Homo sapiens: one gene and its partner. The protein of the gene in region 2 interacts with the protein of the main gene of each other region in a pairwise test. Each region holds a gene or a part of one and is shown on either strand. Other genes may lie near its edges.

Region 1 (7,536 bases), on a different chromosome or scaffold from region 2:
CTTTGACACAGCAATTCCACTTCTAAGAATCTTTCCTAAAGAAATATGCACACACGTGCACAGAGCTGTGTGCACAATAATGGCACGAGCAAACAACTGGGGAACGTTTGCAAAGGTTTATTTACTGTCAGTGACTGCTACAGGGGAATCGGATGAGGGGAGTACATGCTGACCAGGAAACAGAGTGAGGGAAGCCTGACCAGGACGCATGGCAATGGGAAAAGCAGATGGGAGATGCTTATACTGGTACTTGGTGTGTGTCTGTGTGTGTGTGTGTGTGTGTGTGGTGTGGTTTGTGTGTGTGTGTAAATGCAGAGGAAAAAATCTGAAATTAAACACTCAGAACTGCCCTCAGTAGTCACATCTAGGGAGAGAGGAGGGTAATGCTGTTCCATGCAGAGGTAACTGACAATACTTGTTTTCTAAGGTAGGTGCATGGATACACAAACCAAAATATGCATTAAGTATGTCTTGCTCATCAGTGAAAATGTTAATATCTAACAGAATGACACACTTCAAGAAAATACAATGGAAACGCTAATATCGTACTCTTGGCACACTAAGAAAAATGACGCTCAACTTTTCACTGTTGTGAACACTTGCTTTCACTTGCTATGCACCTGATGACGAGGGGTCCACAGCCATGCCCATGTTCGTGAAAGGTCACCACGTTCTGCTTCTCATCATGGGCATGTGTCATATCCCCAAGGCTGAGGCAAGAAGAGAGAAGGAAAGTAAGTGGCAGTGAGTTCCCACCACGTGACAACTCAATCTCAACTCCTCCTGACCTGCAGACCCTGCACACTCCGATTCTGCCCTATCTCAGGACCTGCACACACCTTCCACGGTTCCTCGAAGTGAACCATCTGTTCATGCCACAGTGACTTCCTCGCCTGGGCTATCAATTCCTAGGCTAGAGGAAGGTGTGGCCCGCATATCAGGGCTGACCTGGGGTTTGGGACCCCACAGCATCCTGGGTAGGGAGCATCCCTGGATATATACAGGGCAGGGAGTAGAAAGAGCATGGGAAATCTCATCATTCAGCCTCAATGCTGTACACTAGAAAATTATAAGAAGGGAATGATTTGGGGAGCAAGTGACAGATGGGATGCCAGTATCATAACAGAATAGCACATCTGCAGGGATGCAGGGGATGAGTGGAAGGTTCTCTTACGGAGTTACTCATCATCTTCCTCAGGATCGCTGATCTCTTCATAAATCACCAGCTGCTTTCTCTCACGCAGTCTGTGGGTCCAGGCATGTTCCCCCCTTTTGGGTCCTATGATGGAGAATAGTTGGAAAGTGAGGGTTGGGTAGGTTGGAGAGTGTTAGGCTCTGTTTACTCAAAAAAAGGAGATGCCTGCTTCCTCCCAAGTGCCCATGGGCCTTCTTTATCCAGTTTTTCACATTCTCTGGCTTAGAGAGGCTGAGACCTTAGACCCACACCAATATAGGCCAAATGCCAATTAAAGTTTTAGCTTCTGGCTCCTTCCCTTCTCAGGCTTAGATTCCCAACCTCTTCACTTACGGGAACATTCCCCCATACCTAATTTCATACAGCACGTATTTGTTAAAGCCACACAGGCATACCTTGTTTTGTTGCACTTCATGTTCATACTGCTTCGCAGATGCTGCAATTTTTTTTTTTGGAAATTCTCACCAATTTTACACTTTTCCATTATTATTATATCTGTTATAGTGATCTGTGATCAGTGAGCTTTACTATTATTACTAAAATTGTTTTTGTTGTTTTTTAGTGTTTTAAAATAATTTTTGTTCTTTATTTTGTGGGTACACAGTAGGTGTATATTCTTATGGGGTACATGAGATGCTTTGATACAGGCATGCAATGCATGATAATCACATCATGGAAAATAGGGTATCCATCCTCAAGCATTTATCCTTGCCTTACAAACAATCCATTTATGCTCTTTTAGTTTTTTTAAGTACAATTAAGTTATTATTGACTATAATCACCCTGTTGTGTGTAATTGTTTTGGGGGTACCAGGAACTGCACCCATAGAATATGACAAACTTAATCGATTAATGTTTTGTGTCTTCTGACTGCTCCACCGATGAGCTGTTCCGCGTCTCTCTTCCTTTTCTTGGGCCTCCCTATTTCCTGAGACACAGCAATACTGAAATGAGGATTATTAACAACCTTACAATGGCCGTTAAGTGTTCAAATGAAAGGAAGAGTCGCATGCCTTTCACTCTAAATCACAAGCTAGAAATGGCTAAGATTAGTGAGGAAGCATGCTGAAAGCCAAGACAGGCTGAAAGCTAGGCCTCTTGCACCAAACAGCCAAGCTGTGAATGCAAAGAAAAGTTCTTGAAGGAAATAATAGTATATAATGCAAAGGAAAAGTTCTTGAAGGAAATAATAATACTAATACTCCAGTGAACACACGAATAAGAAAGCAAAACTGCCTTACTGCTCAAATAGAGAAAGTTTGAGTGGTCAGGATAGAAGATGAAACCAGCCACAACATTCCCTTAAGCCAAAGTCTAATTCAGAGCAAGACCAGAACTCTCTTCAAATCCATGAAAGCTGAGAGAGGTGAAGAAGCTGCAGGAGAAACCTGTGAAGCTAGCAGAGGTTGGTTCGTGAGGTTTAAGGAAAGAAGCCGTCTCTATAACATAAAAGTGCAAGGTGAAGCAGCAAACCCTGATGGAGAAGCTGCAGCAAGTTATCCGGAAGATCTAGCTAAGATCACTGATGAAGGTGGCTACACGAAACAACAGATTTTCAATGTAGATAAAATAGCCTTCTATTGGAAGGAGATGCCATCTAGGACTTTCATAGCTAGAGAGGATTGAGTTCAACTTTGAAAGGAGTTCTACTGTGGGTAAAATGCTATCCAATAGCATCACATACTACAGAGAAATCCTTCATGAAAGGGAGAGCTAATCGATGTGGCAAATTTCATTGTTGTGTTCTTTTAAGAAACTGCCACAGCCACTCCAATCTTCAGCAACCACCACCTTGACCAGCCAGCAGCCATCAACACCGAGGCAAGACCCTCCACCAGCAAAAAGAGTGTGACTCACTGAAGGCTCAGAAGATTGTTAGCATTTTTAACAATGAATTATTTTAAAATTAAGGTATATACATTTTTAGACATAATGCTATTGCACACTTAGTAGACTACACTGTAGTGTAAACATAACGTTTTATGCACTGTCAAACAAAAAACAATGTGTGTGACTCACTTTATTGCAGTGGTCTGGAACCGAACCTGCAGTATCTCTGAAGGACACCTGTATTGGGTAACAGGCATTGAGCTGAGTAAGATATGATCCCAGGTTATCACAGATAGAATCGCTTGAGCACCTTTCATGTCATCAGGCCTTCTAGATTAAATTTAATGTCTCCAAACAATTTATGAACTATGATTCTTTATTTCCATCTTATGGACTAGGAACCTGGAGCTGAGGAAATTTGGAAGACTTTCCTCAAGTCACGTGGTTTTTTTTTATATGGATGACAACTCCAGTCTGTCTCTGGAAGTCATGTCTAACATCTCATCTGGAGCTGGGCAAGCTCCTCAGCCCAGCCTGGACCCAGGGTTATCTGGGATCCATGCCACACACCCAGTCCACACACCTGAACGTCGCCAGGGAAGCCAGTGGGATTGTTCCTGAATTGCTTCCTCTTACCAGATATCATGTTAATCTTCTCAGAGGTAGTTGGTTTTCCCGGGGGGCACAGCTGTTTCCCATCGTTTTGTGGGCCAGATGCTTCTGGCACTTCCTTCGAAACATTTCCTTCCTCTGCTGGCTTCTTGGGCATGATCTTTATAATGTGAAGGTCATAGATAAATAGTATCAGTGACATTTCTATAGTGCTTTTGAGCTTACAAAGGGTCTTCACATGCATTAGCTTATTCAATGTTCTCAACAACACTGGGAGAGTTACACAGGCCTAAATTAGGAGAAACCTGGGAGGGGAGGTTAGAAGGGAAAGGAATGGCCTAAGTGAATATGGTTTCCAGGGATAGAATGCTTATCTTCCCACTCTTTTAGGACTCACATTCTTGCAAACAGCAAAAATCTCCATTTAATTGAGAGTGTGATATACAGATGATTTGGAGAAGAGTAGCATTCTAAGAATTCACAAGGTCTACAAAGGGAAGAGGTTCTGTAAAATACAAGGGATCCCATATAAGCTTGTAGACAGCTGCTGGGAGAGTAAATGTAAAAACATAGGGAGGCGACAAAACACTGCTGGGAAAGATGGTGTGGGGAGATGAACACAAGGAAGGGAGAGGGAAATAAATGGCTTGCTGAAATTAATCTAGGCAGCAAACAAAGCAGTACCAGATATGACATACTACCCTACCGAGGCACCAATTGAATGTGGAATTCAGTGAGGTGGTACCCATACCAATTCTGGTTGCATTGGGATGTGTACTGACCAACAATCTTAAGCTGCTTTCTTTTTCTTTTTTTTTTTTTTTTTTGAGACGGAGTCTTGCTGTGTCGCCAGAATGGGGAGCCGTGGCATGATATCGGCTCAAGGCAATATCTGACTCCCGCGTTTAAGCGATTCTCCTTCCTTAGCCTCCAGAGTATCTGGGACTACAGGCAGGCACTACCACGCCCCACTAAGTTTTGTATTTTTAGTAGAGACGAGGTTTCACCATGTTGGGCAGGATGGTCTCGATCTCCTGACCTTGTGATCTGCCCGACTCAGCCTCCCAAAGTGCTGGGATTACAGTCGTGAGCCACCGCGCCCTGATCTTAAGCTACTTTTAATTCAGCTTCCTCCCTTATGAAATAGTGAACCATACATGTAAAATAGGCTACAAGAAAGTGCTCTCTGAGCTTGTAAACACTCTTTAAATGTAGTAATAATAACAATTAATACCTTTCACAATCCTTCTTTGAATTCAGTCTCCACACTGGCAACCCAACTCCCAGATCCCTTTACCCTCCAAACCAGAGTTGAATCTGCACTTGTGGGATCACTCATTCAGGGGCCTCCGAGGGATCCCCTGGGCTGGGACTGGGGCTTCCCAGACGCCCCAGGTGCAGACAAGGCACTCAAGGAGCTCACAGTAGGGAGGGGCCAACAATCAAAGCGATTCCTAAGCCATGCAAGTGGCCCCAGTAACACAGCAGAGACCAGATGGTCCTTCCTGTTGCGAGAGTGGGTGTCTCAATGGAAGCACCAGCAGGCCCTATGGGGTGAAGCCCTAGTGAGCAACATCTGAACTTCATAAACAAATGCAAACGTGAATGAGCTTTAAATGGCTTGGAGCTCTGGATTAGACTACCACTGACACTGCGCCTCAGGAAAATTCTTTAACATCTCTGTACCACGATAGCCTCATTTTATTATTATGTTGCTGATAACTATGATCTAAAACATAAACTATAATTCTTTACTTCCATTTCATGGACCAGGAATCTGGAGCTCAGAGAACTCAGAAGATTTGTGCCAAGTCATATGGCTATCATATGGATGAAAACTGAAATGTGTTACTCATTATTATTCGGAGATAATAGAAACAATGTCTTCTTAAGGATTAAATAAATTAATCCATGTGAACTGCTTGAAATAGTATCTGGCATCACTATGAAAACAAAAGAGGTATGAACAATCACAAATGTTGGTACTATCAAGCCGTCGGTGCTACATCAGGTGTTGTGATAGACATGGGGAGAAGAAGGCAGTGAGGGCATTGTTGATATTCTCCCACTCTTACCAGTGTTCGCATCCTTGGAGGGACAAAGGTTCTCTGGTCCTTTAGATCTGAAAGATACTCACCTTCGGGAAGATTCCCTGGAGCCTGCCGAAAGTCATCTGAGGACGTTGAACTGAAAGAGAATACATCAGAATTTTTCATTGTTGGTAAAGGTTTCCAAACTCTAGAGAGACTTCTGTCGCATCAGGGTATTCTGCAGCAGAGGCTTATGAGTCCACGCATTGTTGAGGAGTTATTTCAGATTTGCTTCTGAATTATGTTTAGTCATGGTTGATGCATTTATCTGTGGCATCAATTCAGAATTTTCCATCTCATGGTTTATCACATGGGGACTACACCCCATCACAGTCTCATCTTATTCGATTACATATCTTTTACTTTTTCCCAAATAATTAAATTGATTGGTTAGGAATCTGAACTGTATCCACTCAAGATGTGCAACAACTGAAAATCATTGTACACTTCAAATGGGTGAATCTTATGGTATGTGAATTAAGCTGTTAAATGTGTGGTGAACCACGGATGATTTGGTCCAGTGGCTCTGAAAGATTTTCAGTACAAAGACAGTCCTTTAACGTTAAAAACTTGGCAGATACTCAAGCACTGGCTTTTCAGATCTCTTATAGTGATTGCGGGAGATTGTAGAATCTGGCCTGTTTAGTTGGCGAGTAATAGGTCTATTGGAGACGGTTTGGACATTCTGACCTTGTCTTATAATTATGTTGTCAGAGTAGAAGAGCAAGTAAATACATATGTCCCCTTTATTTTCCTGAAATGCACAAAGCTCTCTACCCAAGAACCTGTCTTTTTTTCATCCTATGTTATCTCTGTTCTCTGACAAGTGGGAAAGCTCTCTGTGTTTTCGATAAGGGATCACTCTTTCAAACTCTCTTTCAAGCTCATCACAGAGAATCAGGGTTATTTGGGAATGAGAAGACTATTTGGTTTTGATAAAATACAGAGAAACAGCGATCTTTATTACATAATGTGTTCATCAACCTCACTCCTAAGATACCTATCCAATACCTACATGCTGTTAATGAAACAACCTCTGGAAGTTTTTGGCGGATCTACAGTTTTAACACTTTCTTTCTTTTTTTTTTTTTTCACTTGTAACATTTTCTTAACTGTCCTTTGATACATTAACAGTGCTTAGGAAGAACAACATGTCATTTAAAAAAGAAATATTTCAAACACACAGAAAAGTATGGGGAATAATATTGAGTCCAGTCGGATCTCAACATTACCCCACAGCTAAGTTAGGTCTGATTTATTTATTCAGAATATTAGAAAAACTGCAAACAGGCCGGGCGTGGTAGCTCACACTTGTAATCCCAGCAGTTTGGAAGGCTGAGGCGGGTGGATCACCTGAGGTCAGGAAGTTTGAGACCAGCCTGGCCAACATGGTGAAACCCCGTCTCTACCATAAATTAAAAAATGAGCTGAGTGTGGGGGCACGTGCGTGTAACCCCAGCTACTCGGGAGGCTGAGGCAGAAGAATCACTTGAACCCAGGAGGTGAAAGTTGGAGTGAGCTGAGATTGCCTTATTGCACTCCACCCTGGCCGAGAAGAGTGAAACTCCATCTCAAAAACAAAAACAAACAAAACACACTATCAACAAGTCACAGCTGAAGCTGTCTGTGCAGCACTCAGCAATCCCTGCCCTCCCTCCCTCCTCCACTTACAGCCAGTCACCTTAGTTTGATGGCTTTTTATTCACATTCATGTTTGTATACATTTACCATTTACTTATTATCCATAAAAATATATATTCTTCTTTTGCATGTTTTAAAATTTTATATGAATGACCTCTGTAGTTAACT
Region 2 (7,536 bases):
GCCACTACTAAGCATCTATAGAGTGTATCTTTGGCAAAAATGTGGACCTGCAACAATTCAGATGGTTTTCTTTCAATTAGGTTCAAAAATCATGGCTCTGTAAATTTCCAAAACTTTTAAAGTCTTCTCATGTCTTCTTATAATCGGGCATTCAGAGGTACGTGTTGGTTCTAATAGCTTTGGTAGAAACATGCTGAAAATAGAAATGAATATAAAATGCCTTGTCTTTAGGCTAATTTGGTATGGATTAGTAAGGCCTGAGTGAACTGGAAATTAGTACATTTCTTGAAATAATACAAATGAATGTGAGACACATGGGTAGAACAGCAGATTCAGAAAAAAAGGTTAGTATTGTAGTCCCAAGTTTTATAAAAGACATCAAGTAAGGCCAGCAATAGAGGAATCAAGTTTCTTTTTCGGGTTCCCTGGGGTGATTTCCTATCAGCTTCACGTTCATGAGCTGGGGATTTGTAAAATGTGAGATGGCCTTTGACTTTGTTTTTGATGCGATCAGCAGCGGCACTGTCTGCAATCCAGGCCCAGCATTCTCAGACAGCGTGCAGTACGGATGCTTCTGGCTGGCAGGGAGGTCGTGGCAGTGGGCTGACTAGTGTGCTGTGTTGGGAGGGCTCAGAGGGTGATGGGGCAAGCCTCCGTGCAAAGGGAGTTCCTTTCTGGTCGTGCCCTCCTTTTTGGCTGGAGCTTGGCCACAGAGATTGGCTGCCATTCTCATCCCTGGATGGGGTGGAGGCAGGTCCCAGACAACCTCAGATAATTGAACAGCAGCTGTGACCCTCAGAACAGCGTTTCTTCTTTTTCTTGGGGTGGAAAATGGTGAGGATTGCTTCATCAAAAACCGCTTTGAGACCTTTCTGAGTCAGAGCTGAACATTCCAAGTAGCACTGTGCTCCGATCTTAAACACAAAAGAGAGAAAGGCATGAGAGATAAAAAAGAGAGAAAAGCACAGTGGTATCAACTCACTGCCCAGACAAGCACTTACTTCTGCCTGTCCTACAAACAGCCTGTGGGGTGGTTTGGATTATGTTTGTCTTTTTTTTTTTTTTTCCATTTCAATTTGTATCTGCTATCCTATTTTTTTTTTTTTGTATTTTTGTATTTTTTACTTTCCTTTATTTGCAATAAATGGTTGTGGATTACTTCTGGAAAGCAGTAAATCCTAAAATTGACCCATAGCCATTTATTCCTAAGAACATAAAAAATGCAAAGATCTAAAAAATTAGGAGACAATTCAAAACCAATGATATAATTTAAATATGTTTTGTGAAGAACAGGGGTGCATGATCTTGTTTTTCATATCCTCTCATTTGTAGGCAGAATGTGTAAATCATGTACAAGTGAAATGTATCTTCTTTGGTATGATAAAAGGCAAAGTGTCAGCTTGGTTGATAAAGCAGATAGAAAGAGAGTGAATGATATGGTTTTATAGGTCATTCTTGATTAAAATGTACCTCTTTTAAGGTATCCCTCAACAAGGTAATATCCAATTGGCATTATTATTTAGTTTTAACATACTTTATTTATTTATTTTTGAGATGGATTTCGCTCTTGTTGCCCAGGCTGGAGTGCAGTGGCACCATCTTAACTCTGCAACCTCTGCCTCCTGGGCTCAAGTGATTCTCCTGCCTCAGCGTCTCAAGTAGCTGGGATTACAGGCGTGTGCCACCAAGCCGGGTTAGTTTTTGTATTTTTAGTAGAGACGGGGTTTTCCCATGTTGGCCAGTCTGGTCTTGAACTCCTGACCTCATGTGATGCGCCCGCCTCAGCCTCCAAAAATGCTGGGATTACAGGCATGAGCCACTGCAGCCAGCCTTAACACACTTTAAAAGGCATATTTTTTAAAAAGTTAAAAAAAAAACCCACTAAAACATGTAACAATAACAATAAAACATGTAACGATAATCATAAAAGACATTTAATGCCAGAGACATCCTGTCAGTGTACAGTCTATATATTTAAATGATAAGGTATTTCATACTTGCATAGGGCTTCATTTTAAATATTCTGATGATTTCATACTATGGTGTGTTTGATAATCACAAACCTCTCATGAGAAATATAGAAATTCAGGCCAGAACTATAGATTCTCATTTAAAAATCACAGACCAGGGCAGACCATATTTAGCAGTCAGCTTCTTGTGAAGGAGACCTGCGGTTTTATTTGTTCATAAGCTCAGGAAGAGTCAATGATGTGATGTTGGCCTTTTACTATTAAGGACATCTGGAGAAATGACTTTAGTTTTTGATTCGCATTTTAAGAATCACTTTGAAAAATTAAAGCAGATTCAGAAGAGGTTGGCTAAATGGCGAGTTCCTGGAAACTACAGCAGACAAATGGCTAAAACAAGGTAGCAAAATCATAGGCCTATTATGCCCAATAGCTTATGTAAATGATAAAGTGGGGCTGGCGCAAGACAATAGGGAGAGGAGGGGACTATGGTGGGCTGTAAAGCACATGCCCCCTCTAGGGTGTGCAGTCTTATCAGCTTCCAAGTGGTAATGTTGGTTTACTATTGCCCATTTTTGTATTTTTCAAGAGGAGTTGGACATTTGGATTTTTTATTTAATATTTACCAGTTTATGAACTATTTACCATGGGCCAAGCAAGACACTGATGTGGGATATATTTGGCAGCAGCCAGCCAGTTTGCAATGTGTGGACTAAGTGAACTTGTGGTTTAGCTTAGAACAGAGCGGGAATAACCCCAGAGAGGTAAAATGAATTGCTTATGGGCACTCACCTAGAAAGTGAAAGAAATAGACCCAGAATCTGGGTCTCTTGATACATGTTCATTTCCTTGCTCTGTGGCAGTAACTGTGACCCCTATCACTCAGCTCTGCAAGAAGCTGGTCAAGTTGACAGTTAATGAAATGAGATTGTCCACTTATTTCAAAGGCCACAAATATGAAAACTAACCATCAAATAAAGTGGTTTTGGTTGGGCCCAGACACTATTTCCTAAACTCTCCGACAGAGATTATGCATTTTTCATTTTTTTCCTGACAAGAATGGTTACTGAATGAGCCAAGGGAAAATACCAAAAGAAAACGATGTTGGATGTTGAAAATCTATTTTATGGCTTTCATTTTGACCATGGTTTGGTTTTCAGATTAGAAAATAACTTTTTTAAATAATTAAAAACAGTTAGATACAAGAGAGGAATAAAGCGCAGAGAAAATTTTCCTAATAACATAATGAAATGCCTTCTATTGCATTTTGGGACTGTGTTCAATGCTTGATTCAAACACATGTGAAAAGCACATTAATCTAATGGCAACAGCGTTGCCAACTGAATGATTCTGAATGACTTGACTGTAACGTGGTGGCACTTGTCTGGAAAATACCTAGAAACTGCTGTAGCACCTTTCTATCTGGAATACCTCTCCACTAAGGATCCCAAGCCTAGGATTGATTCTGCCTGGAATTCCAGGACAGCTGGGCTGAGCTCACTCACACCTGGAGTCCTGCAGGAGGGGCAGGGCACTCCCCATCCTCCTGCCCCCAGTGTGCAGCTGACAGCATGTCAGGCTTTGCCTTTCGATGGAGCGGGAGGAGCCCAAGCTTGTCTCTTCCAATTCAGACATTTCTGAAGATAATGAAATAGCAGATAAAGGCATTATTGTGTAACTGAGTTAATATGACATTATGTTGTACTGATAGAAAAAGTAGTCATCAGATTATTGGTGTCATTTGGGAAACACGTGTGAGAAACAATCCAGTTATGAGGTAGGTATTGTTACCATGTGTCAAGTGCTATGAGGGTCGGAGAAGAATTCATCCCGGTTCAAGGAAAAAGCACAGCCAGATTGCTAAAAAAAATGATCTGTGTCCTCAAAGATGTGAAATGAAAAATTGTCTCAAGGAAATGTGGCCCTTATTACAGCAGCAACTTCATCTGCTCCTTGGAGCAAAATGACCTACACAGTCAAGTATTTAGAAGCCATCTGGGAGGGTTCAGGATTCAAGCCTCCTTGTTTAGATACACATGCAAGCAAACTGGAATGTGTTCTACCCAAATGACTTATTTTCAAGAAAAAAGTAGAGATTGAGGGTGTAAACTGAAAAAACACTTTTCTTATTGTTTTATAATAGCTAAAACTTATTATCTCAAAAGCAGGGACATTTATCAGCGATGTACAGAAGATACAAGAGTGATAAGAAAAAAAAAAAAAAACCGTAATGACTAATCAAGTAAAAGAAAACCTAGTACTTCTTCCATGTTGTTCTAGTTGGGGCAGGACAAGTTATAGAATAAGATAGAAAGTAACTGGAAGGGATAAAGGCAAAGAGATCTTCCCAGCTGTAGACATGTCTGAGAGGGCTCATGGATTTAACAGCAACTATAGTTTGCTGAGCTGGACCTTGTGGTACATGAGCTAATTTCATTGTCACAAGAACTTTACAAGGAAAAATCTGTCACCATCCTCATTTCACAGCTCAGGAAACTGATACCCAGAGAGGCTAAGTAACCTCCCTTATGGCCACACAACTAAGAAAATGGCAGAGATTCGAATTTGTCTGCCTCCTGAGCCAAAGTCTTAACTACTCTTTTGGGCTGTCTCTAGCAAATGTCATGAAATTGTGGCTGAAAGAGCAAAATTAATGAATAAATGGGCAAAGCTGTTACGGATATAGTAAAGGTGATGAGAGAAGGGAAGAAGAAGGAAGGCATGTCCTGTAAATGGAGAGAAAAGAAGAGAAGATGTTAGTGGAATAAACAGAGTAAGCTCGTATCTAAAGAAATGGCTAGTAGCAGAGTAGTTCTGTATTCCTCATTTGAGAATTAGCAAAGGCACACAGAGAAGGCAAATAGAGAGCCAAGAAAAAGAAAAAGAACCAAACAGGTTGTAAGAGAAAAGCCGCCATCTCAACAAGTCAGCATTATGATCAAATTGGTGAAAGAGGAAAAACATTTCTAGGCCAGACAGATTTGCTGCTGATCTTTGAAGACTATAATGCAGAGATGCCAATTCAAGGCTGGATAATGTAAAGTGTGTTACTTGAGTATAGGATAATATGGAGTGGTGGGGATTGTGGCAGACTGAAGAATACATGCTTAATCTAAGAGACTGTTTAACAGTTTCTGTTGATGAGGAAATGCTGGGCTAGAGTTGCTCGACCTTCTGAATTTCTTTTAGAGGCTAGAAATGTGTTTCCAAACTATTAAATGTTGGCCACTAAATTGCAATAAAAATATGTGTTTGGACTAATGAAAACATTTGTGGGTGAACTTTGGCCCGTCAGTTGCCAATCTGCTCCCTATGCTTTAAAGGATGCCTTTGCATGTCCTGGTCTCCCTGTCTAGAATTTTATGCCCTCCCCAGACCCCTTTGCCCACCTGAAAAACTTTTCCTCATCCTTCAAACCTGGATAAGATGTTACCTGGTTAAAGAAATCTCTGAAACCTCCTTCCGTGAATGTATTAGTCTCTCTCTCTTCTGTGCTACCTGGTACATTGCCCAGATGTGTGTTACTGTGTTTATCCAGGTGGCATGCTTTTGTTTGCCTGTCTCCCTCCTCTTCTGGCCTTTGTAACCCAGACACCAGTGGTGAAGTGACTTTCAATGACCAAGGGAGAAAGGGAAAATGGCCAGCACAAGGCAGGTGGCAGTGACTCTTCCAGTCAGGAAGAGGGCATTAAAGACTCCAGTTGATTAACGTGACTGAACATTGATGACAGGGTGTTTGCAGCAATTTTGCTGCTTTAAATCCCACCTGTGCATGTTAAAAACCCAGCAGGAAACTTAGCAGGTGCCAAGTTAAAGAGTGACAACGACAAAAGGCACAGTGTGAAGAAGATGGCCGGAGAGGGCAAAGAGAACCCAGAGATTAAAAAAGAAAAAATGGCAAATTCCTGTATCAAAAAATACCTTAGGAAGTCTGAACTTAGAAGATCATGTTTAGACTGTATTAGATAGAACTGGGAAAGAGAATGCACAAAGAATTACAATCTTAGAGCTAAACAGTGTAGCATCCAGCATAGCACCTGGCACATATTAGGTGCTTAATCAATTGTTGTTTAATAATTCTAGCAGCAATAGGGGCAGTTACAAATGTGTAAAAGAATGGGAAAAGTAGGCTGAGGATTAAAAACTACAGTAATAGAAAGAAGAGGGAGAATAAAAGAAGTCAAAGAATAATGAATATTTATAATAAATTAGTGCAAAATATGTAAATGTGGTTGACTTTGGAGTATAAAGAATTGTAAATGTGTATGATATAAAAATGTCCTTTGAAAATAAAACACCCTTTGAGACCAAAAAGAGATGTTAGGTGGAAAATGCTTTGGAAATGGAAAAGTATTGAACAGAAAGAATCAGATATGAAAAATCTGAACTTGCAAAGCCTTTAAGTTGGGGGGGAACTTTGCACATGAAAATAAGGGACTCCAGTATATAAAAAAGAAGCCCCAAACCTAAAGGTTTCTTTTCAGATTATAGGAGGGAGGCAGAAGAGCAGGTGGTTAAAGCACAGTTTTCTATCCTCACTCTGCCACTTGCTAGCTGGGCGATCTTAACCTCTCTGAGCCTCAGTTTCCTGTAGGAAAGTGGAGATAATAATATACACACCTCAGGGGGTTGCTGTGAGGATTAATTAAGACAAAGGCTGTAAGGCGCCTGGCACCAAGCCTAGCACATTATAAACACTCCATAAATGCTAGCTGAGATTATAAACTACTTGACAGAAAAGTCAGAGAGTAGAGAAACTTAAAGCATCTCTATAATTACATGAATTGTGATAAAACAAGTTAAAATCTTGCTAGGTTTTCTTCTAAATTGGATTTTGTAAGCTAAACATGATTCCGTCTGTATCTGAGAGCAGTTGCTAGGAGAAACTAGCAAAAGGCAATATAAATGGTGAACTCAGCCATTGTTCCAAAAATAAGTATGAAACGAGATGGGAGGCTTTGAAACGACTTCTTTTCAGACAGAAAAAAAACAACTTCCCCAATGAGAAGTGAGGCTAGGAAGCTGACGGCATGAAGGAACACAGAACGCGAGTTCCTGCAAGAAGCTGGTGCCGGCCAATGGGGACATCCTGGCTGTGAAAAATGTGTAGAAAGGAGCCACCTACAATTATTTATGGAGCTACATATTTAGGTATCTTAATGAGAGCATTTGAGGATGAATGTTTGAGGAGAAGGTAGAAGCACCTACAGGCATAAACCCATTTCACCCAAGGAAAGATACACAGTTGGAGGTCATTTACGTGACGGTCAGGTACACGAGTGGTGATGTCCACAGAGCTGGATTGGAAGTTTTTGACTTTGTTATTAGCTATGTGCTTGTCTTCTAAGACTGTTTCCTCATCTGTAAGCTGAGACCAACGCTATCTGCTTAAGAGGGTTATTATGAGGCTGAAGTGAGAGATATTATTAAGTACTTAGGATCCTAAGGACTCCATGGACGTCTGGCGCTAGTTAGTATTGACATTACTGTGCATAGAAGTAGGAAGAGTTCAGTATCTCGATCAGGTGTTGTGAGAGGTTCTCATGCAGGATACCTGTAAAAACATGAT

Evidence for each region. The genes of interacting proteins can lie anywhere in the genome.
Region 1: the proteins of RHOJ (region 2) and SSX3 interact in binary tests that used the Homo sapiens proteins (3 or more experiments, as listed by UniProt).

What each region holds. Positions count from the first base shown.
Region 1 is NC_000023.11:48,346,326-48,353,861, forward strand, and holds the end of SSX3 (protein SSX3), read right to left. Parts: intron 5,825-7,536; coding exon 5,775-5,824; intron 3,798-5,774; coding exon 3,662-3,797; intron 3,263-3,661; coding exon of another isoform or gene 3,216-3,262; exon of another isoform or gene 3,072-3,215; intron 2,124-3,071; exon of another isoform or gene 1,280-2,123; coding exon 1,179-1,279; 3' UTR 1,175-1,178; intron 711-1,174; 3' UTR 102-710; downstream 1-101. UniProt on the Homo sapiens protein: Could act as a modulator of transcription.
Region 2 is NC_000014.9:63,284,256-63,291,791, reverse strand, and holds part of RHOJ (rho-related GTP-binding protein RhoJ), read right to left. Parts: intron 3,605-7,536; coding exon of another isoform or gene 3,542-3,604; exon of another isoform or gene 3,475-3,541; intron 915-3,474; coding exon 768-914; 3' UTR 1-767.